2 separate regions of the Homo sapiens genome follow, and region 2 is linked to region 1. Evidence: fine-mapped expression QTL. Tissue or cell type: whole blood. Region 1 holds a variant in brackets; the other region holds the start of a gene. Each region is shown on its reference strand, or each on the opposite one.

What was found.
Region 2: TOPORS starts here. The variant in region 1 is fine-mapped to the expression of TOPORS in whole blood (TOPMed, PIP above 0.99).

What each region holds. Positions count from the first base shown.
Region 1 is chr7:139,182,642-139,193,646 of GRCh38, forward strand. It overlaps IFT56 (intraflagellar transport 56), which reads left to right. Exons shown (of 18, transcript NM_024926.4): 17 at 4,765-4,898; 18 at 6,680-9,345. The coding sequence ends at 6,791. Among named protein-coding and RNA genes, the nearest start is that of UBN2, 43 kb to the right of the region's middle. RefSeq lists enhancers at 144-743, 1,282-1,576. The variant C/G (reference allele first, on the strand shown) is at 7,029.
Region 2 is chr9:32,542,303-32,559,076 of GRCh38, forward strand. It overlaps TOPORS (TOP1 binding arginine/serine rich protein, E3 ubiquitin ligase), which reads right to left and starts at 10,284. Exons shown (of 3, transcript NM_005802.5): 1 at 10,132-10,284; 2 at 8,472-8,666; 3 at 1-2,024. The coding sequence starts at 10,134. SMIM27 (small integral membrane protein 27) reads left to right here and starts at 10,025. Exons shown (of 2, transcript NM_001387564.1): 1 at 10,025-10,177; 2 at 10,499-10,705. The coding sequence starts at 10,133. The coding sequence ends at 10,621. NDUFB6 (NADH:ubiquinone oxidoreductase subunit B6) reads right to left here. Exons shown (of 4, transcript NM_002493.5): 3 at 16,608-16,652; 4 at 10,699-11,642. The coding sequence ends at 11,574. RefSeq lists silencers at 8,285-8,344, 8,845-9,064 and enhancers at 9,344-10,058, 9,705-9,914, 9,925-10,254, 10,059-10,772.

The DNA of each region.
Region 1 (11,005 bases):
AGCAGCAGGAGCAGCAACAGCCAAGTATGAGAGAGAATAAGATTAGCCAGTAAATGGGGTGAGGAACCTTGTGGAAACCAGTGTTTAAGGGCTGGAAAGAGAAGGAAGAGTAAATGAAAGAGAGGATGAACAGAAGAGAAGGAAAACAATGAGGACAGGAAAAAAAATGCTTTTCATTACTTTTTCTTGCTCCCATTTAATCAAAAACCAAGGCAGGAGAGTGTCAAATCTGCAACTGGATAGAAATGCATGAGGACTGAGAAGACAGTAAGAGGTAGAGAATAGAGTCAGATTACAAAGCAGATGCAGCTAGTGTAATGTAGACCACAGTCTTAAAAAATTTGATATTAAAAATAAGAAGGAAAAATGTAGTGCTAACTTAAATGGAAAATCAGGGTTTGGAATTGCGGGGGATGGGGTGGAGAGTTCTTTTAGAATGGGGATAGGGGAGTATATCTGTAGGCAGAAGAAAATGAGCCATTGAACAGTAAGATTAAAGATTCAGGAGGATGGGGCATTTTTGATGGAGTTAGGCCCTGAGGAGATGAGAGGGGAATAGGGTTAACATCAAAGGAAGATAACTACTTGAAAAACAAGTTGGCATTACCTACTGTCTCAGTGGTCCCATGACCACCCACTAGTTTGGTGATTTACTAGAAGGAGTCATACGACTCAACATAAAGTTATACTCATGGCTAAAATTTATTACACTACAGGAACAGCAGGAAAACGATGGGTGTAGGTGAAGGCTAGAGAAGCCAAATACAGGTTTTCTTATCTTCCTTTTGTGGGGATCACACAGTCAAGTCTTTATCAAGCATATGTGTGAGGTCCTTGTCAAAGAAAAACAAAGAGAATAAGGGGGGAAATGGCAGAATTAAGCCCTAACATGTCAATAATTAAATGTAAATGGTCTAAGTATGCCTATTAAAAGACATCTATTGAGAGAGTGGATTAAAAAACATAACCCAATTATGTGTTCTCAACAAGAAATTCACTTTAAATATATTTACATAGGTCAAAAATAAAAGGATAAAAAAAAAAAACCAACCATGAAATACTTTGGCAGTTTCTTTAATAAACATACTTACCATATGACCCAGCAATTGCATTCCTGTGTATTTATCCCAGATAAATGAAAACCTATATCCACAGAAATATATAAATGTTAATAACACAAATTTTAATATTTAAATGTTAATAGCAGCTTTATTTGTAATAGCCTAAAACTGGAGACAAAGTCTTTCAGCAGGTGAATGGTTAAACAGATGGGTTTGGCATGGAATACTACTCAGTAATAAAAAGGAACTATAATGAGAAGTCTGACTCCATTTCTGGATGTTTGACTGCTGACAGCTTTTAAGCCTCACCCCTGCCTCTTCCCGTTGTGCCCCGCATCTGGACAAAATGATAAGAAAACCTACGTGCTCCCTTCTTTGGCACCATAGGGTGATTTAAACCACACAAGCCCCTGCCCATGCACAGGAACCTTCACCACGGCCCCACCTCCTAACCACAGTAAACACCAAGGCCAGTCTCCTTTCCTTGCTTTCTCAGGCCTTTTCAGATCTGCTTAATAGGGCCGTTCTACTCTCCCTAGGCTTCAAGTATGTAAGAAAACGTTTCATATCCTCTTGCTGTGTGTGTGTGGCGTCATCAGTTTCACCATCCAAACCAAACTTTGGTTGGGAGTCCCTGTTGCATTTGCAGGGTGACCAGAACAGGAGCAAGCTATTGGAACACACAGTAACTTGAATTAACAGGGAATAACAAGGACATTATACTGAAGGAAAAAAGCCAGTTTCATAGGGTCCCATACTGTTTGCTTTCATATATGTAACATTCTTGAAATGACAAAATTATTGAGATAGAGAACAAATTAGTGGTTGTTAGATGTTAGGGATGGTGAGCAGGGAGGGCTGTGCATGTGACTGTAAAAGGGTAACAAGGGAAATCTTTGTGGTGATATAATAGTTCTGCATCTTGGTCAGGCACGGTGGCTTATGCCTGTAATCCCAGTACTTTGGGAGGCCAAGGCAGGAGGATTGCTTAAGGCCAGGAGTTCAAGGCCAGCCAGGGCAACATAGTGAGACATCGTCTCTATAAAACATTTTTAAAAAGCAGCTGGGCAGGCCGGGCGTGGTGGCTGATGCCTGTAATCCCAGCACTTTGGGAGGCTGAGGCGGGCGGATCACAAGGTCAGGAGATCGAGACCATCCTGGTTAACACAGTGAAACCCCGTCTCTACTAAAAATACAAAAAATTAGCCAGGCGTGGTGGCGGGCGCCTGTAGTCCCAGCTACTCAGGAGGCTGAGGCAGGAGAATGGCGTGAACCCGGGAGGTGGAGCTTGCAGTGAGCCGAGATCGCGCCACTGCACTCCAGCCTGGGTAACAGGGCGAGACTCCATCTCAAAAAAAAAAAAAAAAGTAGCTGGGCATGGTGGCTACCTCAAGAGGCTGAGGCAGGAGAATCACTTGAGCCCAGAAGTTCAAGGTTGCAGTGAGCTGTGATTGCCTTATTGCATTCCAACCTGGATGACAAAGCAAGACCTTGTGTCCAAAAAAAAAGAGTAATTCGGTATCTTGATAGTTGTATGGCTGTGGTTACGTGAATCTACACATAGGATGAAATAACAGGACCATCATCAACATACACGGTACCAGTGTCAATTTCCTGATTTTTATATTGTGATATTTTACTATCCTTATTTAAGCTGTAACCTTTGGAGGAAACTAGGTGAAAGGTACACATGACCTCTGTCCTATCTTTGTCCATGGATCTATAATTATTAATACTTCAAAATAAAAAAATTTTTTAAATGAATCAACTAGAGCTATATACAGCAATATAGGTGAGTCTTATAATGTTGAATCATAGGTACAAGACATAATAGAATATTTACAGTATTCGTTCATATAAAGTTCTGAGAAGCAGAACTCAATTATATTGTTTAAAGATGTGTATACTTAAGAGAGAACATAAAAGTCAGAAGAGTAGTTACCTCTGGGTATGGAAAGAGAGAGTTATGGTCTGGAAGTGACACACAGAGAGCTTTTGTGTTGCTCTCAGTGTCTTGACCTGGGTAGTGTTTACAGTATTTTCACATTATAATTAGTAAGATGTACATGGATGTTTCATTTACCATCCTGTATGTGTGTTATTTCACAATAAAGACTTTTTTTAAAAAGAGTACATAAATAGAAGGACAAACCTTGAAAATAAAAAAAAATCTTCGCGTGAGATTAGGCAGAAAGGAGGAAAGGAAGAATGAAGGTGTAAATATAATTTGAACTGAAGAGAAGAAAGTTGTGTTTTCCCTATGAAGTACAGAATAAGGCTAAGCTAAGAAGGCTGTCTTAAGGAAATTGTCAAAGATTTAGAAAAACATCTGTCAGGAATAAAGAAGTAACTAAACCATAAAGAGAGTTGCCCAGCAATTTGAAGCCTTAAGTGAAATTGGTAACAGTATGTATTTATGATTGCCAAGTAAGAAAACTCATCTGGCCAGGCGCGGTGGCTCAAGCCTGTAATCCCTGCACTTTAGGAAACCAAAGTGGGAGGATCACTTGAGGCCAGGAGTTTGAGACCCACCTGGGCAACATAGTGAGAGCCTGTCTTGCAAAAAATTAAAAATTAGCTGGGCATGGTGGTGTACACCTGTAGTCCCAGCTGCTTGGAACACTAAGGCAGGAGGATCTCTTGAGCCCAGGAATTTGAGGTCACAGTGAGTCATGTTGGCACCACTGCACTCCAGCCTGGGCAATAGTGCAAGATCCTATCTCTAAAAAAAAAAAAAGAATAAAAATTTTTTTTAAATAAAAGAAAACTAATCTAAGCAAAATTTAATGGCATTCAACATGTTCTATGAGGCCAAGGAAATGTGTAGTACATTTGGGAAAAATGTCTGTCAAAATGCATTAAACATTTAAAAGATTTAGTGTTTAGAATAGTAGTCAGTATACATCTAAGCATTCTGAGAATTTAGGAACAAGACTAGGGAAAGACCATCCTGGAGTTGAACATGATCAAATTAGCATAAAATGAATGATAGTAGTCATCTGAAAAGAATGTACTGAAGAGACTTGAAAAATACTCAGTTCAAATCACAATCCTCAGTTTATCCTCAAGATTAGAAGACAATTAGAAGAAAAGGCAAAAGTGCTGATTGTGGCCGGGCGCGGTGGCTCACGCCTGTAATCCCAGCACTTTGGGAGGCTGAGACGGGTGGATCATGAGGTCAGGAGATCGAGACCATCCTGGCTAACAAGGTGAAACCCCGTCTCTACTAAAAATACAAAAAATTAGCCGGGCGCGGTGGCGGGCGCCTGTAGTCCCAGCTACTCGGGAGGCTGAGGCAGGAGAATGGCGTGAACCCGGGAAGCGGAGCTTGCAGTGAGCCGAGATTGCGCCACTGCAGTCCGCAGTCCGGCCTGGGCGACAGAGCGAGACTCCGTCTCAAAAAAAAAAAAAAAAAAAAAAAGTGCTGATTGTAGCATAATTTGACTCTATGTAGAAAAAATGTTATACTGTTGAAAACTGAGTGAACATAAGGTAGTTTAAACTGAACCCATGTACCCAAACTGTAATTTTCCTTCTTATTGTTTTAATTGGGAATTGAAGTTTTTCTAACTTGCTAACTGAAAATGTTGTCAGCACCCATGCACTTATTTCATACAGTCCCGTTTCATGTTATCTTTATGTTCAGGTTCTTTCTGTGCAATCTCTTTACTGCAAGTATTACCACATACGTTCTCTTATTCAGATGGGCCAGTTTTACTATTCTGCCAAAGCTTTTGATGTCCTTGAGAGGCTGGATCCTAACCCTGAATATTGGGAAGGCAAACGGGGTGCCTGTGTGGGCATTTTCCAGATGATCATAGCTGGGAGAGAACCCAAGTAAGTAAACAGGCAAGAAATACTACCTCTACTCATTTGCTTGTTTGTGAGGGAAAATACTTGTTCTCTTGGATGATATCTTCTGAAAACACATGATTATAATGATGTTTTAGAATGATGAAAAAAAGGTTGATATTAAATATTTCTGTCTGACCATTTTCCTCCAGAAATCTTTCATTTTGTAGAATCAGATAATTCTAAATCATATATAATAGGATCAGATCATTCTAAGTCATATATACATTAAGTACACTAACAGCCTCCAAATATAAGAGCAGGATGTATATTTGGTTCCAAATGAACAGCCATTTTTATAGGCAAAGTGTTTTTTTTTTTTACTCTTCTACTCTTTTGGGTTTTTTGTTTGTTTTTTGTTTTTTGCCTATTGGCTTTTTCTTGTGTGCTTTAGTTTAGGTCTCAAAAAATTAGGAATGGAGTAGATGTGGTTGATAACTCTTTTGTTTTCTTTCACCTTCTCATATTCTAGGAAATACTGAGACATTAGTTTACATAAAATTAATAAAATTCAGTGGTTTATACTTTTTCTTTTTTTTTTTCTTTCTTTCTTTTTTTTTTTTTTAGATAGAGTCTTGCTCTGTTGCCCAGGCTGGAGTGCAATGGTGTGATCTCAGCTCACTGCAACCTCTGCCTCCCGGGTTCAAGTGATTCTCCTGCCTCACTCTCCTGAGTAGCTGGGATTACAGGCACGTGCCACCATGCCTGGCTAATTTTTGTATTTTTAGTAGGGGCAGGGTTTCACCATGTTGGCCAGGCTGGTCTCAAACTCCTGACCTCAGGTGATCCTTCCACCTCAGCCTCCCAAAGTTCTGGGATTACAGGCATGAGCCACCATGCCCAGCCTATAGTTTCATTTGAAACAAACATTAAAACACAACTCGATTCCATTTTCTAAAAATAACTTCATGGAATGTATTTATTACTGATACATGAATAGGAAATGTGTTAATTTTGTAAGAAAATAATCTATCAAAAATTACTTCCTACCTTATAGTACTTCTAGTTCTAAGTAAAAGTTTAAAAACATTTGGTTAGGTGAAAGAGGTTGTTTGTGGGGAAAAAGAAGTAGAAAATATGAGAAGACTCTTAAGCAAATAGGTTCATAGGCAGTCGCCTACAGATTTGCTAGGGCAATAAGGAAATTTTAGCATTCATTACTTAAAATATGTTTTAATTTTAATTAAATTTAAATTACTTCAAATATAAATGCTAGGCTTAGTCCTTAATGTCCATCTCTTCCATTTTATTCATGTATTATTTTTCTTGAAAAAATCCCTTATTCCTTTGGCTTTGTAAAATTTTATGAATTTGACAATGATGCCTAGTTGAAGGTGGTTACCACCTTAAACAAGGGAGAAATCCATGAGTTAGACAAATTAAGTGACTTGCTGGTGTTAGAGCTAGAACTTGAACCCCAACTTCTGGATATACTCTTTCTAGTCATGCAGAATAAGAATAGAAATGGGAATAGTTAGGTCATCTCAGAAAGGACAAAAAGATTATCAGTATGTATATAGGTAGTATGGATAAACAAGGAACACTTGGATTGGCAAGAAAGATTTCACATAATTTCCATTTTACTATGCCACAATAAGAACATAAGGCTAGGCAGTTTGTAATTGCTTTGTGAATACACAGTGAAAGAGTCTATTACCAAAAATGCCCTACAAGACATACAGTATGAAGGACAGTTCAGAGTTTATTTTATTTTTTAATTTTCATTCTTCATTGAAACACTTTGTCTTTTCAAATCTTTTCCTCAGAGAGACCCTTCGAGAAGTGCTCCATTTACTGAGAAGCACAGGTAACACCCAAGTAGAATACATGATCCGGATCATGAAGAAATGGGCCAAAGAAAACAGAGTGTCCATCTAAAATAGCGCCAGCGTCCTAGGAACCAGCTTCTACTTTGACATAAAACTGGAAATCATTTTCACTCCAGTTTAATCTGTGATACAGGGCTCTGTTTTATTGACATTTTCCTTCCTTGCTCTTTAAGCCTCAAGGTCAGAGACTGACTTGCTGAGACTTAGTCTCCTGGCTGAACAGAGTGCCATAGTCTGTGACCCTGTATGATCCTAGTAGCAATAAGATTTTGGACTTATCTGGTGC[C/G]TTTCTTCCAAAAATGCTCAGAGTACTTTTATGCAATTTACTGACTTTAAGGAAAACAGTATAACTTTTTTTTGTTAGCATTTTATGGCATTGTCTCCTGGCTGCAATAACAAACATCTTTGATGTTCAAGAATCAGCATCATTGTATCATTTAACTTTAAGGCGTCTCTGTACGTTATCCCATTTTATTGGGGAATTCCATAAAGGGTTTTATAACGTCATCTCTGAATCTTGGGAGAATAACTAGCTATGTGTTTCTAAGAAAGGCAGTAAGCTACTTTATCAAACTGTCCAGTCATTAATAGGATAGATTTATGGGATTACTCTTTCAGTAATTAAATTGTTGATGATAATAACATGTTACAGCGCAGTAAGATGAGTATTGCAATGTTTTAAAAGGTGAGTACTATGAAAAAAATTGTAGTACCTCTAAAGGTATTCAAGAAACAATGTTTATGAATCTCACTAGTCCATTATAGTTTGGTACCATAATTATTTTAGGTAACAAAGCAGGTTAGGTTTTTGTTAATGTATCTTGCTTAACAAACATCAGTTTTTGTTGTTGTTGTTGTTGTTGTTGTTGTTGTTGTTTTTGAGACGGAGTCTCGCTCTGTCGCCCAGGCTGGAGTACAGTGGTGCGATCTCGGCTCACTGCAAGCTCCACCTCCTGGGTTCACGCCAGTCTCCTGCCTCAGCCTTCTGAGTAGCTGGGACTACAGGCACCCGCCACCGCGCCCGGCTAATTTTTTGTATTTTTAGTAGAGACGGGGTTTCACCGTGTTAGCCACAATGCTCTCCATCTCCTGACCTCGTGATCCGCCCGTCTCAGCCTCCCAAAGTGCTGGGATTACAGGCATGAGCCACCGCGCCTGGCCCAAACATCAGTTTTGAAAGTAGGGCTACAGTGATTTATATGTATTGTGGGCACTTATTAATGTAACGATAATAAAACATGAATCGTATAAAGTCCTTTGAGGGAATCTCCTAATGGCTAGGCTCTCTGTCGTAAGTCATATTCCAGCCCCAGGCTTCTGAGCTCTTATAACATACAACTGAGCATTCTTAAGCTCACAACCTATTTCCAGAAAAGAGACCCACATCTTTCTATGTTTTATACTACCTTTGTTTTTACACCATATAGTTTTTTTCTATTAGTTTAAGGTACCTAGTGTTACAGGTCTAGAAAGTGCAGAGCCATCCCTACCTAGAAGAGAATAGATGGGAAGAGAACTGAAAGAAAGAATTCCTCAAGCACTGAAGTCAGGAAAATCCCCGTAGGCACTGTATTAGTTGTTCCATTTATCCCAGCACTCCACTTGTGGATGAAGGAGTTGTATAGAAAGGAGATGAGAAAATGGCAGGAGTGGAAGCAGCCAAGAAGAGATCGATGACTGAAGATCTCCTTCACCTTCAGGACTGTCTCAAGGGGTTATTTCACCTCTACTCATGAGGATGGCCAGTTTTTCTGTCTTTTATCTTTAGACCCATATATAATCAGTTCAGAGCACAAATCAAAATAAACTGGCCTAAATAACTGAATTCTAGGAAGCAAAGCTACATCTTTTTTCATATGCCAAAGCTTCTGTTTCCTCATGTTGTTCCTACTTTTTAAATAATAAATGGCTCTCAGCATCTTAGGAACTAGATGGGTCCCATCTGGGTAGAACCTGCTATAATTTTTAGAATCACTCTTGTAATTCTTACCTCACTTAAAATATTAGGAAACACAGTAATAGAAAAGACAGGGAGAACTCGTCTGCAGGTTTTGGCAGTGAAATTTGTCTTCCAGTGAATTGCTATTATTTTCAAATTGCCTATAGTCAAAAAGCTTTTCCATTGATGGAGACTTACTTTCAAATGAGCTTGTGTTGAATTCAGCACTCTAGATTCTCTCTGACATTTTCCTGTCTTTTGGGAAAAAAAAGCAGATATTCCAAAAATGGCAGAAATCTAATTTTTGTAAACTTTTTCATCTATAGGATTGAGCCAAAAAACATACATACTATTTTAAAGAAAGGTACCATCTAATTCTTTTATTAAAGATAGCTACTTCTGAAATGTCTTAACAGAGTTTCAAGATTGCAAAGTAGTATTGCATAGCTGGTTTTCTTACATGTGATGATGGAGGAGAGAGGAAGACCCAGACTTAGGCATGTAGTGAAATATGTACAGTTTCTGGCATCAGTGTACTATTTATAGTCTATAGCATACATTACTTGCAAATGGGAAAAGTATTTTATAATTATTTTTGTACCTCAAAATAATTATTATATTCTACTGTATTATATTCAAATTAAAGTTTATTATTTGATTCTTAGTATGATATTCTGTTGAGTGTGATGAGGGTGGGACCTAAGTATGTCATGTGCCTTCTACCCTTTCTTTCCTAGCCCTAGAATGAAAGGAGAGAAAGTTTTGGGCCCCATAAGTTACTCTTTAGAAGAGAGAAAAGTACATATTCCCCAAGAAGCCCTTTCCACTAAGAGGCTGGTAGTTCCTGCTGAATCATACTAGGCTTGGCTCTTTGCTGAATTACAGCCCATTCAGAAGTTATATGACCAGTGCATAGTGTAGTACCTCACACATAGAAAGCTCTCACATACTTGTTGACTGAATAATTAAACATACAGTAACTGGTAGGGCAAGTGACTTGTGAAGTCTAACCTCATATATTCAGTTCCCATTGAATTATTATTTTATTGTGTGCTAAGCATATGCCAGGTACTTGGGCTGCAAAGATAAATAATGCACAGGCCTGACTCTCAAGGAACTCTAACAGAAGTATACACAACTAAACACAACAACGTGATTGATATCATCAGTGGGAATAAAGTATTGAGCAATAAAAGAAGGCAATGGAATGTTTGTATCCGTGTAAATGAGATGCCCCCTGCCTCATTTGGGAGAAGCAATCAGAATGGATCCCAAAGCTCAACAGCTAGCAAGATGCCCACAGCTCTGCCATGTGTGCCACACACATCACATGCATCCAAGTAGACGGAAGCCAAGGGACTGCTTTCCTCCTCTGTGGCTTAGTGCACTTTCAGAAAGGTGCTAGCAAACAGGCATGATATCACAATAGTTACATCTACTTTCTAATGGCAAAAATGAAGTAGTGATTTACTAGATCCTGTATTGAGAACATCTGTGTCTTAGATGAATAGTTGTCTTACGACTCTTTTCTTCATCCTATAAAATACTTCTAGGCTGGGCATAGTGGCTTATGCCTGTAATCCCAACACTTTGGGAGGCTGAGGTGGGAGGATCACTTGATGCCAGGAGTTCGAGACCAGCCTGAGCAACATACCAAAACCCTGTCTCTACAAAAAAAAAAAAAAATTTTAATTAGCCAGGTGTAGTGGCACATTCCTGTCATCCCAGTTACTTGGGAGGCTGAGAAGGGAGGATCACCTGAGACCAGGAGTTCAAGGTTATAGTAGGTACTTTATAATAATGTTCAAACAGTACTCCCGACTATTAAGATGGTCTCAGAGCAGCAGAGCTAGGGACTTAGTGACATGCCTGTAAACTACCTTAACACAGAGCTTCTGGAATATGAGAAGAATAAAAGACAGCACACAACAAAATGAATGTCATCAGTCAATGTGTGTGTGTTGAGTGTGGAGTGTGTAGAGAAGTTTGCACAATTTGTTGCCATCAAAACTTTTTCTTTAAATGAAATCTGAATACCAAAAACACCTAGGGGCTGATTTGGTGATTGTGGTGAAGGAGGAAGGAGATGGCCGGTCACGGTGGCTCACGCCTATAATCCCAGCACTTTGGGATGCTGAGGCAGGTGGATCATGAGGTCAGTAGTTCAAGACCAGCCTGGCCAACATGGTGAAACCCTGTCTCTATGAAAAAATACAAAAATTAGCCAGGCGTGGTGGCAGGCACCTGTAATCTCAGCTACTCAGGAAGCTGAGGCACAAGAATCACTTGAACCTGGGAGGCAGAGGTCGCAGTGAGCCGAGATT
Region 2 (16,774 bases), not on the chromosome of region 1:
ACTCTAAATTCTGGACTTGAAGACTGTCTAGAATAATGAGCTCTGGACAGAGTCCTCCTCCTGTAAGATGATTCGTACCCATCCCTGTCCTTGTTTCTACTGTAATAAGTATACTCCCATTTGTATCTGCTTCCATAATTATTTCTTAAATAATAACGATCTCTATTTCTGCTCCGTGATCTTCTTTTACCATGATCACTGCTACGAGACCTTGATCTGCTTGTGCTTTCACTACTTAGAGACAGAGTTTGGCTTCTTCTGGACCAACTGCTATCTCTAGTTCTTGATCTCTTTTTGTCTCTTCTCCCTCTAGGTCTGCTACTTTCCCTGCTTCTGGATCGTTTACTTTTCATTCTTTTCTTCCCATGATGCTTTCTATGATTCTTCTGATCATGCCCACTTCTACTCTGAGAACGTGAATCTGAACTTCTTGATCTTCCCCTCTTTCTGTGTCTATGGTTATATGGAGAATATACTCTGTCTCCTCTTACAGATGAGTTCAGGTTTCTGGGAGATGACAATGATGTAGATCGTTTCTCTTCCTTCTTTGATTTGATTCTTGTACTAGAATCACAATGACCTTTATTTATTTGTTCATCCTTTCCAAGGACAGAGTGTGGAGATGAGCATCTACTAACATCGCTATCACCAGAACTGTAAGATTGCTCCTGTTCTTGTGTCTTCACTGTCTCCATTTTCTCATAAGAACCTAAGTCCTCAGAATCAGAGGACAGTTCAACAAGTTCTGGGGTCCTCTCAGCTAGTGGTTTAACAAACCCAACAATGACACAATTATCTGAAGAATCATCACTGTCATTATTTAGGTCGTCATTGGTTTGTACTCCTTGTATCTGAGACGTGGCTCCTCCTGTGACAAGTTCTTCATCTGAACTGTCAGAAGTATTTAAAAGAGAAGACATAGTAACGTGTACCTGCTCTGAGCTTGAGTAAGATGGTCCTGGAGTTTCATCATCCCATGGTGCCTGACTAACAGTGGCTACATTAATATCCAGCTCTTGGGTCTCAGCCTCATCTGGAGATATTGTTATGACTGAAGAATCAGAATGGCTGCCTTCTTCGTATGAAGGAGCAGGGCAATCATAATTGGCATGCTGGTCAAAGGCTGCCATGTTAAAAGGAGATCGGGCAAAACTGATAAATTCATGTATAAAATGCTCAGTTCGATTAAGTAAAAATGGTCTTAAATCAGACACAAATGCCTGACTCTCCAAGTCATAGCGAGTAACATTACTCATGATAATATGCTGGACAATATTCACTAAAGATCCATGAGCTCCAAAAAGAACTGTAAGTTCACGTTTTAACCAGGGGACTAATCTGTGAAGGCAAGCTGGATTTCTACGGAAAAATTCAGCTGAAATATCCCTGTAGCGGCCACCATCTTCAATATTTCTAACTCGAGCACCAGCACGATAAAGAGTTCGTCTAAAATTAATAATATCTTGTTCTTGAATTTTCCGCAAAGATCTTTCATCTGCCGTAGTTGGCCTCCTTACTGCAATCTGTCTCATAAACTGAGGAATTTCAACATCTCTAGGTCTTGTTGAAATGCCTAACCCTTCAAACAGTACTCCACTATCCGGTGGAGTTGTTGTTCTTCTGTTCACAGGACCACTAGGTGAATACACAGAAGCATTTCGTTCCCTTGTCAGAGTTGTACGGTAGCGAAATCGTCGATCAGGGGTGACAAAAGAACCATTATACGAAGGCCTTAGGACATACTCCTTGAAGTCATCTTCTGCCCTCACAGAATGGAAAATAGAATCAAAGGGCTGTTTACATAGTGGGCATTCAGCTTTGTTTTTTGACCACTCCTGTACACAGCGAAAACAGAACTTATGTAAGCAGCGATCTAAGTAAGACACATTATCAAATCTATCCAAGCATATAGGACACTTAGAATCAGGAGATGCATCAGCTGGTACTGTCTGTTGCAATTTGCTAGTGCCAGCTTTAGGTGAAAAGTTGTCCATTTTAAATTCCTTAGCAGCTGATGCCATTATCTGTAAAAGGGAAAGAAATATATCAGTAACCTGATAATAGAGGAATGACTAAATAGTCTCAACAAAAATGCAAATAAAGACCTTGAAACTTATTTTGGTGAAAATACTTAAGTGACCCATTACTTTTGTTTTATTTTATAAAGGGGCACTGTAGCATAGTAATATAGTGCTTAAAGCATAAGCTCTGAAGTCAGATTTCCTAAGACTGAATCCTGGTTCCACACTACCAGCGTGACTATGTGCCAGTTAGTATCTCTGTGCTTTAATTTCATCTGCAGGTCAGTGATAACAGAATCTGCCTTACAGGGTTTGTGAAGATGTAAAAAGCCCTTAGAAAAGGCACCTGCTACATAGTAAAGCTCTCAAATATTATGTAACATTCTATTATTCTTTTTAAAAATAATTTGAGAAATATCTGACATATAAAAAAAAAAAGTACCAAATACCCATGTATCCACCACTTATGTTATGCCCCTTATCTTCCCCTCCTATCACTCTCTAGAAAACAAAAAACAAAAACACCACACTCCTCAGTTGATGTTATTTCTATGCATGGCTTTATACCTTTCATATACATATGCCACTAACAATACAGACTACTGATTTATCTGTGATATTTTGTATGTACTTTTCTAAAACAACTTTGGTGACATAACTTACATACCAGAAAGTTCACCTGTTTAAACCAATCCTATGATTTTTAGTGAAAGATTCTTTTTTCAACCTTAGAAAGCTAATTTTAAAAAGGGAGAGGAAACTTTTAGTGAAGATTAAATAATAAATGAAAAAGCAGCCAAGAGGCAGTGCCTGGCTCACAGTAGGTGCTGAGTAAATGTCAGCTGTTATTATTACTACACTATTATATTCAGTTAATCACTCATTCCATTCAGCATTCCTAATAAGCCTTCCTTTAGCTTTTTTCTTTAATCCAAAAGTCAGGCCACAGAATATCTTGAAATCATGTTTTTGGTCCCCTTCCCTATTATCCTTTCCCATAAGGATGACTAGAATATTAAAGATTAGTTTGTTTTATCAGTTTACATTGGCTCAAAACTTTGCTAGAGCTTGAAATCTAGTATGCGTTTTGACTTTATCTCATAAACTCCAAAGCTGCATTTTATACTAATCATTTTGAGTATATTGACTATTGGGGAGTCAGGCGCGGTGGCTCATGCCTGTAATCCAGCACTTTGGGAGGCCAAGGCAGGCAGATCACCTGAGGTCAGGAGTTCAAGACCAGCCTGGCCAACGTTGTGAAACCTTGTCTCTACTAAGAATACAAAAATTAGCCGGGCATGGTGGCAGGCACCTGTAATCCCAGCTACTTGGGAGGCTGAGACAGGAGAATCGCTTGAACCCAGGAGGCAGAGGTTGCAGTGAGCTGAGACTGCACCATTGCAGTGGGTGACAAGAGTGAAACTCTGTCTCAAAACAAATAAACAAACAACAACAAAAAACTACTAGGCCCTTGGTTTCCCAGGGCCTAATATTCATCTTCCTCCACCTCCTTTATCACAGGAGGTTCCATCACTAGTCAACTGGGGTCAAGTTAATCAAATAACAGAATTGTAATTTTCTAAATAGACTCATTGGCCTTAACAAACTATAAGAAAAACCAATAAACAAAACCCACAACAAAAACTCATGACTGAAATACAAGTATTCCACCATAGCTTTCATATTAAACCTGCTCACTTTAGGGCATCTTGGCTTTCTCAGAACCATAACTTAATAGAGAATCAATTAATGCTAAATAAGCGTTTCTTCAGGGGTCCAGGTATGTCTAGTCTTCTATTTACTGGACTGAAAATGCAAAAACATCATCACTGTCCTGGAAGGTCTGGAAAAGCAGGATTATAAATACATAATACTGCTTTTTTGTTCATAAACAGTCTAAAACCCTAATACTGCACAACCTTCTCAGCATTTCCCTCTACTTTTAACATTTTTTAATCTGCCTACTCAAGAAATTTAAAGAAACACACACATAAAAATAAAAACCTTTCAGTTCAGAGACTGTGTGTGTGGTAGAGGGAAGGAACAGAGAAAAGTTGGGAGGGAATCAAAGAGGTTATCAAAAGATCTGGACTGAAGACCAGGCTTCACCTAGAACTAGCTCTAGTTAATGTGAAGAAAACCACATTACTCTAGACTTTAGTTTTCTCCTCTATATAATGAAGGGATTACTGGACTTGGAAAAAAGACCCGTGAATTCCAAGTTAATACATTTTATCTTCACTTAGTTCTCTGAAATAGAATTTTAGTGTTTTCTGAACACTTCCAGTTCACATAAAAATTACAGCTGAAAATGAATTTATTAAAGGGAATTATTAGGTAGTAAACTTGAAGTTCAAATAAAATAAAATCTCAACAAAGTATGATTTTTTTAAAAAAATGAAACCTTACCCTTCCCTTCTCTAGTTTTATAAGCCTGTTAACCACTTTGACAGTAAAAGGTGAATGAATGACTGGTAATGTCCTCCATAACAGGTTAAAAAATAATAATAAATTAGAATTCATTCTTGTATTTCTACACAGGAATCATTAGCTGAAAAGAATAATCTTAGCCGGGCATGATGGGCACACCTGTAGTCCCAGCTACTCAGGAGGCTGAGGCAGGAGGATTAACTGAGCCTGGGAGGTCCAGGCTGCAGTGAGCCATAATTGCACCACCTCACTCCAGCCTGGGTGACAGAATGAGACCCTGTTTCAAAACAAACAAACAAACAAACAAACAGTCTTCATCAGAAACATCAAAGAGGCGGGGCACGGTGGCTCACGCCTGTAATCCCATCACTTTGGGAAGCCAAGGCAGGAGACCCTTGAGGCCAGGAATTTGAAACAGCCTAGGCAACAAAGCGAGATCCAGTCTCTATTTTAAAAAAGAAAAAGAAACATCAAACAATTGGAATGCATGTAGATCAAATAAGTTATTAGCTCTTCAAAATCATCACTAAATACTAAATTAAAATGTTTTTTAAAACGCAAATGAAGTCGAACATATGACCCGGCAATTACACACCTAGATATACCCAAGGGAAACGAAAACTTGTCCACACAAAAAAACTGTATATGAATATTCACAGCAACTTTAGTCATAATACCTCAAAAGGAGAAACTCAAATACCCATCAATTGATTAACAGACTAATAAAATGTGGTCTATCCACACTATGGAATTTTATTTGGCAATAAAAAGGAACAAAGTACTGGTACCATGTTGTAACATGGATGAAACTTTTTATTATGCTAAATGAATGAAAAAAAAAATTCACAAGAACCCACATATTGTATGATACCTTTTATATGAAATGTCCAGAATAGGCAAATCTAGAGAGATGAAATGAGGCTGGTGGCTGCTGCTGGGGCAGTAAAGAGGTTTATTTCTGGGGTGATGAAAACGTTCTACAATTAATTATTGTGATGGTTGTACAACTCTGTAAATATACTAAAAAATCATTGACCTACAAACTTTAAACGGGTGAACTTTATGGATGGAATGTAATCTTTTATTTTATTTTTTTGAGACAGAGTCTTGCTGTGTCGCCCAGGCTGGAATGCAGTGGCGCGATCGTGGCTCACTGCAAGCTCCGCCTCCCGGGTTCACACCATTCTCCTGCCTCAGCCTTCCCAGTAGTAGCTGGGATTACAGGCGCCCGCCACCACGCTCGGCATTTTTTTTTTTTTTTTTTTTTTTTGTATTTTTAGTAGAGACGGGGTTTCACCGTGTTAGCCAGGATGGTCTCGATCTCCTGACCTTGAGATCCGCCCGTCTCGGCCTCCCAAAGTGCTGGGATTACAGGCGTAAGCCACCGCGCCCAGCCCGGAATGTAATCTTAACAAAGCTGTTTAAAAATACAAATTAAGGCATAAAAACTGGGATGACTAGATACAGATTAAGAGTGGTTGATTTGCTGGCCGGGCGCGGTGGCTCACGCCTGTAATCTCAACACTTTGGGAGGCTGAGGCGGGCAGATCACCTGAGGTCGGGAGTTCGAGACCAGCCTGACCAACATGGAGAAACCCGGTCTCTACTAAAAACACAAAAATTCGCCGGGCGTGGTGGCGCATGCCTGGAATCCCAGCTACTCGGGAGGCTGAAGCAGGAGAATCACTTGAACCCCCGGGAGGCGGAGGTTGCAGTGAGCCGAGATTACGCCACTGCACTCCAACCTGGGCAACAAGAGCGAAACTCTGCCTCACACACAAACACACACACACACACAAAAGAGTGGCTGATCTGCAAGAGACGTTCTGAATTTAAGTAGCAAAGGTAGACCCGATGAAAAACACAGTGCTTCAGGTTCTGTAAGAAGCCTGTGTTACGGGTTTTCCATCCTAGCACTCTAGGAATTAGGACATTTCCTCACAGGAGACAATCAGTTCTTCCAGTCACACTTCCTAAACTGTCTCCCAAATCCTAAATGAAGTTCACCATCTTTAGTATAAACTGATTAAGCCAAAACTTCCCTTTCCCGAAAAATCCTCAAATCTGGCTTTAACAAGGATAATAACAATTCGGGGAAATTTCAGCTAATTAATATGGACACACGTCTAGGGAAAATGGATGGGGGAGATAAAGAATCAGGAAGCTCGAATCTACATTTCAGGAGACTGGATATTTGAAAAACTGCACAATGATATAAACGAAGTATAACTGCTCTGTAGAATTAAAGTTAGACTTACTACAAAAGTCATCTATGGCCGGGCGTGGTGGCTCATGCCTGTAATCCCAGCACTTTGGGAGGCCGAGGTGAGCGGATCACAAGGTCAGGAGATCGAGACCATCCTGGCTAACACGGTGAAACCGTCTCTACTAAAAATACAAAAAATTAGCTGGGCGTAGCGACGGGCGCCTGTAGTCCCAGCTAGTCGGGAGACTGAGGCAGGGGAATGGCGTGAACCTGGCAGGCGGAGCTTGCAGTGAGCCGAGACTGCGCCACTGCACTCCAGCCTGGGCGAAAGAGCAAGACTCCGTCTCAAAAAAAATAAATCAATAAAAATCAAAAGTCATCTATGGCATACACTGTATATAAAATTTAATCATCTGCTGATTACATTTGCGGGAGTGATGTTAATTTTGCTGCAGAGCCAAGGCTGAGAATCGCCACCACTTAGTAGGTGTGTAACCTGGAGGAAGTTTTTTCTCAAAATCTCACGTTTTCTCAATTCTAAAATGGAATTGAAAAGGTGGTTGTGTGACGGGACATATTTCATAAAAACCCTTAGCACAGTGCTTGATGCACAGTAAGAACTCAACAATGTTCTCTATGTTACGTGAACACGAAGTGAATTTCGGTAGCTCATCACCCATAACTGATTATATGGGTCCAGACAGAGGATAGTTTATAACAACAAAATAATCATCATACTTAATATAATTATTATACTTAATATTTCTAGGCAAAGTGACTAAAAAGGGTTCACGAATAGATGAAATAGAAAGATCACCCAAGTATTAAAAATAAACTGGTTCCTACCTCTTGCCACCTTAAAGAAATCACTGTACCTCTCTGAACTGCATTTAATCAACTCCAAAAGAAGATACAAAAGTCACAGGATCTCAGTAGATCCTATCAAATTTATCCAGATCCTATCAAATTTAATCCAATTCCAGCAAAAAGAATTGGCTGGGAACCGTTCGCCTCTAAAACCACTCATTCCAGACAAGTATGATTGATTTTAGCTGATTGTATAGCTTTCTTTGCATTTCATGGACAAAACCCAGAAAGCTCTCACCACTATTAACTTAAATCTTGGGCAGCTGTTTCTTAATTTATCTTAAATAATCTTGAAAATTACCTATCAAAAGGTCTACTCCGTTTTCCTCTTAAATCACTATGTGGCTCATCTCAGCACTGCCCCCTTCCAGCCTACAATCAGCAACCCATGAGGAAAGCTGCAGTAAATGGATGGATGAACAAGTCACGGGCAATTTCTGCTCAGAATGTTTAACACAACACAGACAAGTCCCAACTCCCAAAGCCACGGTGATAGTCGTTTACTTTGGTTCAGAACTGCCACTAGACTAAGATAAGCACCATGAGCATTACATAACCACAACGAACTTAAATATTGTTATTCCCATTTTACAGACAGGCTCAGGGATTTAAGGGACCTAGGCAAGGTCACATATCCTGTAAGTGGTGACGCCACGATTCAGTCTCATTGCTTTTTTGCTTTTCCCTGAGACCAAGCTCTTTCCAGTACACGGCCAGGCTCGCGCCCCTCGGGAGCGCTTGTGGGAAGCGCAACCCTCGCCTGCCCGCACCAATCCACAGGTGCGCGCAGGAGCCGCTCGGGGGCCCTGGCCCTGGCCCGCCGAGGCCCGGACAGCCCCGCAGGCCATGACCGCAACCCTCGGGTCCCGAGGCGCCGCTCCAGGCGGGAGCGCCAACTCCCACGGCCCTTCCGACCCCCGCGTCCCATTGTTCCGAATCTCACTCACCTCGGAGGATGCCGGCGCAGGCCTGGCTGGGGCGCTCGCCGCGAGCTCCCGGCAGCCCAGAAAGCTAGGTCGGTGTCGGCAGGATCCGCGAAGGCGTACCCGGCGACTTCTCCGCCTACCCTCCGAAGCGGGAGCAGGCGGGGGCGCTTCACCCTCCTCGCGAGACAGCGGAGACCCCAGCGGCGGCTGCGACCCCTGTGACGCAAAGGGCTCATCACCAATGGCAGCTCGGAAGCAGGGCAGAGAGCGAGACCCACCCCCCAGCTCCCGCGCATCAAAACACAACACCCGCCTTCCTCACGCATGCGCAGCAGATGGACGCCGGCCTCGGGGGCGGGGCTCAGCGCACCGGCCCAAATGCGGCCCCTCCCCCGCCGCTCCAGACCCCGGAGGAGGGCAGCGCGACCCTCCCCATCTTGTTACTGGTACTCAGCCACTGGGGACACTGACTGAATGTTCGCCCCTAACTTACCCGGAAAACACGAGAACTAGTTCGATGTCGTTTCAACCTTACCAAACTCTGCGGAAACTTAGGAAATTATCTTTAGTGTCTAGATAGGGGAATTGTTAGATGGACTTGAAGTCTCTCACCTCCTGTTGTACGCCTCCCGGAAGCAACACCAGGAGTCCAACGGGATCCCAAACCAGAGCCCAACCAGTATCCTATAAAGTCTTCAGAGAGGGATCCCCTCCAGGCTGGGGAGAAACAGGACAACCTAACAAAACAGGGCCTGGACTCCTCCCTAAACAGACCACGTTTTTCTCCGCTCTTCCCCTTCCCACTCCCTGAAATCTAGACTAAAACTCTTTTAAGATAACTGCGAGGTATAAAGAACGTCTAGAGCCTAAGCGGCCCGTTGCCAGATTCTACTCCTCAGGCCTCAAATGTGAGCGCCCCAAACATTCTAGAGCTGAACCTGGTACGCTCGCCCACCAAACTGCCGTGCTCGGGGCTTAGTATCTCACGCGCGGCAGTTCAAGAACATCAGACACGCTCAACAAACACTTGTTGCTTGACTGATACATTATGGCGGGTAACGCGTCCCACGTATTTCTTCTTAGAGATATACATTACGCTATACGTTTCTGAAGAATGGCTCGATTTACAGGGGTTCCCACAACGATTTGTCACATATAAAAGAGTGGGTGGTATTTTTACGTCAAAGATGAACAGGCGAACGTCCATCTAAATCGTGTGGTATCAGATGCGGGGAGGCGTGGGGGAGGGAGCGGGGGAGAAAGCGTTAATTCTTCCAGCTTTAGAGCCAGACGTAATATTTAAAACGTGGATTGTTTTTCAAATTAACTTTTAAATGGACACGACAGCACCTTATCCTGCATTAATATTGCATTGCAACTAGAAAGAAAACCAGTGGAGGTACGCCTATCTCCTTAGTTGGCAAAAAAAAAAAAAAAAAAGCAATTTTTAACATTTTCTCGTTTATTCCCCTCTCTAAAAGGCGGGCAAGGCCCCCGATCACGTGATACCGCCCCCCAACTCCGGGCGGAAGAGGCCAGCGACAGCGCTGCACGAAGCGAGTGGGCGGGCGCTCGTGCCCGGCTAAAAGATGGCTGCTGGCGCCTGGCAGCCACCGCCTGGGAGGTTACTGTAAGGCCCGCAGCTCCCGCCAGCTCCCGCGGACTGCTGCCGCCTCCTTACCATGAAGCCAGTAAGTCGTCGCACGCTGGACTGGATTTATTCAGTGGTAAGTCCCGGGGATCGCGGGCCCCCACCGTGTCGACTCACTGGGCCCGCAGGCGGAAAGGCCCTATTTCTTCAGCACCCAGAAACTCCAAAATCCATTCCTGAATTAAGCATTTCACTCCCTCACCTCGACTCCGCCTCTTCCTGGAGGATACGATCTTCCGCTTCTTACGTAAGGGCTGCTGGGTGTACCCGCCACTGGAACCCCATTTATTCGACTTTGTTACTTTAATTCCCACCTTAGCAATGGCAACGGTAACCTGACGGGGGCGAGGGGAAATATCAGGTAGATTTCACACCTCCTTTGCGATTTTTGGTTTAGTTGCTGCTTGCCATCGTTTTAATCTCCTGGGGCTGCATCATCTATGCTTCGATGGTGTCTGCAAGACGACAGCTAAGGAAGAAATACCCAGACAAAATCTTTGGGACGAATGAAAATTTGTAACTCTTCTGGATTTAATTATCTGAAAATACAGTTCTTTCCCTCATGCTTATGTAGATATAAAAATAAAATTCATAATGCAAAGTTCCCAAGTTTATTTTTGCATTATCCTTTATAACAAGCACTAGTATGCAAATTTTTCACTTAGAGATTTTAGTATTTTACATTCTCATGACAAAATTAACAGCAACCTAAATCTGACAGTCTTGAGTGTCAGATCATAGTTGGAATAAGCTTTTCAATCAAGTTTCTAAATTCTTCAAAAATGATTCGGAAAGCTTTTTTTTTTTTTGAGACGGAGTCTTGCTCTGTCGCCCAGGCTCAGTGGCACTATCTCGGCTTACTGCAAGCTCCGCCTTCTGGGTTCACACCAATCTCGTGCCTCAGCCTCCGCAGTAGCTGGGACTACAGGAGCCCGCCACCACGCCCGGCTAATTTTTTTGTATTTTTAGTAGGGACGGGGTTTCACTGTGTTAGCCATGATGGTCTCGATCTCCTGACTTCGTGATCTGCCCGCCTCGGCCTCCCAAAGTGCTGGGATTACAGGCATGAGCCACTGCGCCTGGCCGGAAAGATTTCCTTAAAACAAAAGTGCATGGAATTGCTGTTCTTACATTTGTTTATTGTGATATTTCACTGTTGCATACCCTGATACCAAATTAGTGTAAGTACTGTGTAAGAAAAAAACAAACAAACATGTAACTAAATACTTTTCCATACCGTTTTCCAAGTCAAGAATGACCAGAAAAAGTAGGTAGTCTCTCATATTTGTTTAGCATGTCCACTTTTTACTTATTGTTAAATTACTCAGTCTCAAATTGTACAATGCTTGAAAACAGATATGACAATTTCTGAGATTAAACTTTATTAAAGTTACTTTTCCAGAAAATTCAGTAAATATGGTAATATAGGAACAAACTTAGGCTCATAAGCCTTTTAACTTTTTACATAATCTTTAATGATGTTGATCAGGAAATTCTTTCATTGGTGGAATTACTTCTCCAGTCTCCAGAATTGTATCACCCTAGGAAAACAAAGATACAGTTAGTACAAAAATCTTAAGTCTACAGAGGTGATAGTTCTATTCTGTTCTATGTTCATCAGATCTCACATGGAAAATGTACTTGAGTTCTGGCATTCCCTTTAAAAGGACCCTAGACAAAGTAGAAGCTGACTAAATCTGAACAATCAGTATTCAAAATTTTAAGGTATAGTGAAATAATAGGGAAATTTTCACTCAGAAACAAAATAATCAAAAAGGGCACGAAAATTGTGTTCTCTAAGTGATAAAGGGATAATCTTTTATTTTGTATGACCCCAATAAATGGAGGCCCCAGAAAGAAGTTGCAAGGAAACATCTGCAGTTCCAGATAAGGAGGTAATGTACCCCCAGCAACTGAATGTGTTACGCAATCACCAGTTTTCTGATTGGCTTACATACTGAATACAGAATACAAACTTTGGCTAGGCAGCTGGTCCAGATGTCTTTTCAATTCTTGATATAGATGTGGGCAAAAAGGCATGGGCATTGAAGCCAGAACCAAGTGGTAAGAATCTTGGAACCTCCACTGACAAGCTGTATAGTTTTAAGACAGATTATTCAATTTCAGTTTCAGCCATGTGTTTAAGATAGATTCTGTTAGCCTGCCAGTCCCTGAATGACTGGGAAGAGTAGAATTGTCCCCATACCCACCCCAATCCCTGCCATTCCCTGACCTGGTACTGCTCAGGATTATAGTCCAATGAAAAAATAAATATGTTTATGCCATTATACATTTGGGCAACAATTTGTTAGTACAGCTAGCATTATCCCAATAGAAATCATTGCCTTGAAGTGGCACTAATGCTGCTGTAATAAAAATCAAGCTATAGGGCACTGGCTTAGCAGTCTGGTAGCAAAGATAAAGATGGAAACAAAAGGCAGTGGCAAACTATTTAGCAAAATATCTCCTATAACTTGGAAGCTGACTGCCTAATGAACTTGAGGTTCTAGAAGAAGTAGCTGGGAAAAAAAGTTATAGTATGTGTTTGGATCCTTGGGATCCTTGGATGCCTTGGGAATGTACTTTAAGAAGCATGAGCTCAGGCAAAAAGTGGCTGATTTGAGAGGCGACATAAAAATGGAGAGGACGAGAGAACACTTTGGTGCACGCTAGAGACTTTCTGTTCCTGACCAAAAAAAAAAAAAGTTAATAGAATCTAAAAATTTGGGCCAGTCATGGTGGCTCATGCCTGTAATCCCAGCACTTTGGGAGTCCAAGGCAGGAGGATTGCTTGAGGCCCAGAGTTCAAAACCAGCCTGAGCAAGAGTAGGACCCTGTATCTAAAAAATAAATAAAAAATCAGGACCTTGTGGTATTGAAAAATCACACTACTTCAGAATTCCTAAACAATAAGTTAACACAAGAAATCTGAGCAACAGAAGCCCAATAAAACTCAAACAGAGGGACACAGCCCTATGGCAAAGATCAGTTTAAAATGAAGGTAGCCTTTGAACCAGTCTGCCTCAGATGGCCTCCACATAGCTGCCACAGAGGTGAGAGAGGCAGATGCATAAGGACAAAGAAATGAGACAAGCTGGTAACTGTGTATAGGAAAAACAGATACTGGCATGAGACACTGACTAGAAGTAAACACATTAGATGTCTACCAAATATTTTTCTTTTCATGCTTCTAAATGTTAAGGGAAATGGATGGACAAACCAAACATATAGTTTACAGAATCCTGCCAGAATGTTTGAAATTAAAACAACCTCTGGCATTCAACCTCCTGCAAGCAGGTGGCAGATTCTGAAGCCCATACAGCCCCCTAAGGAGGGCATGCTTCCCAATACCATTTAGATGTGGTCTAGGTAGATAATGAAAAGAACAAACCCCCTGGACAGAGCCAGGAACCAGGAAGAACGATGGATAAAGGTGTTCTTTCAAGAAAACAAAATCAGTGCCCATTCAAGTAATTTCTCACACACGGGTTAGGAGTGAGATTTCAGGATTGCCAAGAACCAGTGACTACTATGCTATCCAAATTCTACCACTGAACAATGGGTGTGGTTGGGGGACAAGGATACAGTTAACTTGTCTTCTTAGTTCACTGATCCTCAGATCAACAGAAGTCATATATAAACCTGACATACTATTTTACATCATCTGGAGATCATGGATTTGGGGCCGGGGTGCAATGATGGAATGGGACTTTGGGATTTCTCCCTAAGGAGAGAGACTAAGTGTGTTATGCATGGGTAAAGAAAGAAGCCAAGAGCTGTTTGGTGACTAGAAAGATGGAATGTAGCAGAAACTCCATGAACAGGGGTCTGGGAAATAGCAAAGAGCACACAGATAATATTTGGGAAGATGACAGTGAGTTTTAGCTAACAGAATTTGAGCAGAAGTGATGTAAGCTACTTCTAAGCTTAGATCCTAAAAATCATCCCCTGAGACATCCTGCCGTATCTTTGTATCACAATCTTGGAACCTCATATTCGATAGGCACGGCTGTAAGATTGAGGAAGATCACCTGATTCACAGTAGTCTGTGATGTCAACAAGAAATAAACCTCTGTTTTGTTAAGCCATTGAGATTTGGAAGTTTGTTATTACTTGTCCTATTCTAAACATATATACAATGAGCATTCTTCAGTTCCTCAAAGGGGTCATGGCACAGAAACAAGAAAGAACCACAGTGGCAAAAAATACAGAAATATGAGAAATGCTACAGGATCCCTGATATGGTCTTCTGAATAGAGCTCTCCTTTTCCTTTGAACAGTAAATGGCAAAATAAATTAACATTTAAATGGAATAAATGGAAGACTAAATAAATATAAATTGCCCAGCTGGAAAAACCAGCAAGATAATTTCCTATTTTGAGACTACCTAGGCTGTAACACACATCAATGTTACACAATAAAACAAAAGGAGAAATCCCCTACTTTTTTTTTTTTTTTTTTTTTTTTTTGAGGCAGGGTGCTCTGTCGCTAAGGCTGGAGTGCAGTGGCGCAATCTTGGCTCACTGCAACCTCTGCCTCCCAGGTTCAGGCAATTCTTGTGCCTCAGCCTCCCCGGTAGCTAGGATTACAGGCGTGCACCACCATGCCCAGCTAATTTTTGTATTTTTATTAATAGTAGAGATGGAGTTTCACCATGTTGGCCAGGCTGGTCTCAAAATCCTGACCTCAGGTGATCCACCTGCCTCTGCCTCCCAAAGTGCTGGCATTACAGGTGTTAGCCACCGCGCCTGGCCCCCACTTTTTTTTTTTTTTTTTCCCGAGACAGAGTCTCACTCTGTGACCCAGGCTGGAGTGCAGTGGCGCAAACTCCGCACACTGCAACTTCTGCCTTCCAGGTTCAAGCAATTCTTGTGCCTCAGCCTCCAGGTAGCTGGGATTACAGGCGTGCACCACCACACCTGGCTAATTTTTGTATTTTTTTTTTAGTACAGATGGTGTTTCACCATGTTGGCCAGGCTGGTCTCGAACCCCTAGCCTCAAGGGATCCACCCACCTCGGCTTCCCATAGTGCTGTAATTACAGGCATGAGCCCCCGATACCCCCTACTTTTTTTTTTCCTTTTTCCTTTTTTTTTGAGATGGAGTTTCACTCATTTCTGAGGCTGGAGTGCAGTGCCACGATCTCAGCTCACTGCAACCTCCGCCTTCCAGTTTCAAGCAATTTTCCTGCCTCAGCATCCTCAGTAGCTGGGATTACAGGTGCCCGCCACCACGCACGGTAATTTTTGTATTTTTAGTAGAGACGGGGTTTCACCATGTTGGCCAGGCTGGTCTCGAAGTTCTGACCTTGTGATCCACCCACCTTGGCCTCCCAAAGTGCTGGGATTACACGCGTGAGCCACCGCGCCTGGCCCCTCCCCCAACTATTTCTTAAACCAGCGTTCCAACTGGGACCGCTGGCCAGTTTTGGTGGCCCTTCCTAAAATTCCCCTGTTGCAACAGATAATCATTACTGTGACTAAGTCATTTGATTAAAGCAAGAATCACACTTTTGTTATTTAAATTGTGTACTTTTGAGTTATGATAGTTCATTATCTGTGACTAGAAATAGACAAGAACATAGTATGTATTCTACTATGCTAAACAATAACCTCACAAACAGCTAGTAAATACCAACTGACTACTGAGTCACCTTTTAATGCTAAAATAACTCATTTCAAATTAGTACTATAGCTCACACATTCATAGTATACATTTTTTTTTTTTGAGACGGAGTCTCGCTCTGTCACCCAGGCTGGAGTGCAGTGGCGCAACCTCGGCTCACTGCAAGCTCCACCTCCCAGGTTCACGCCATTCTCCTGCCTCAGCCTCTCGAGTAGCTGGGACTACAGGCGCCCGCCACCACGCCCAGCTAATTTTTTGTATTTTCAGTAGAGACGGGGTTTCACCGTGTTAGCCAGAATGGTCTCGATCTCCTGACCTCACGATCCACCCATCTTGGCCTCCCAAAGTGCTGGGATTACAGGCATGAGCCACTGTGCCTGGCCCATAGTATAAAATTTAAAACACCCATTAGTGGATATTAAATTCACAGATGGAGAACTTAAGGTCAAATCTTGAAAATGAGGTACAAAGCCATAGGACATGAGAGTTTGGAATTAATAACAGAAATTCAGTTGCTGTCACCATGCATGGATGTTTGCTTAGGCTCATGCCCTAAGCTCTTTACCCAACATGAAACAGGACACAGTGAAAAACTTTTGGTACTTTCAACTCCCTTTAGGAAAATCAAGGTCACAAAACACGTTTTACAGCCAGGTTGAAAATAAATGTGCTCACTTCCCATTTGAACTGTAATTGTTACCTCACGGTATTTCTTCCTGTTTTTTTTTGTTTTGTTTTGTTTTTTACAAGAATACACAAAACAGGGACTTAAACCGAAAGTGAGAAGGAAAGAACATTTTAATCTAATAATTGCTTGGAAAGGGAGGAAAAGGAAAGAGAAAAACAATAAACAAAAGAAAAATCAGAAGTGTTAAGACTTACAGGGAATATTCTGGACTTCTTTTCAACTATGCCATATGGTTTTTCCTGTAATAAAAGTTAACTCTGTGTTAATTATGGTGTTAAGAGTTTCTTCTGAAAATAAGAAATAGGTCATACCCCAAATTTTAACTTAAGCTCCAAACTTTCACAGAACTCCAGATTCACAT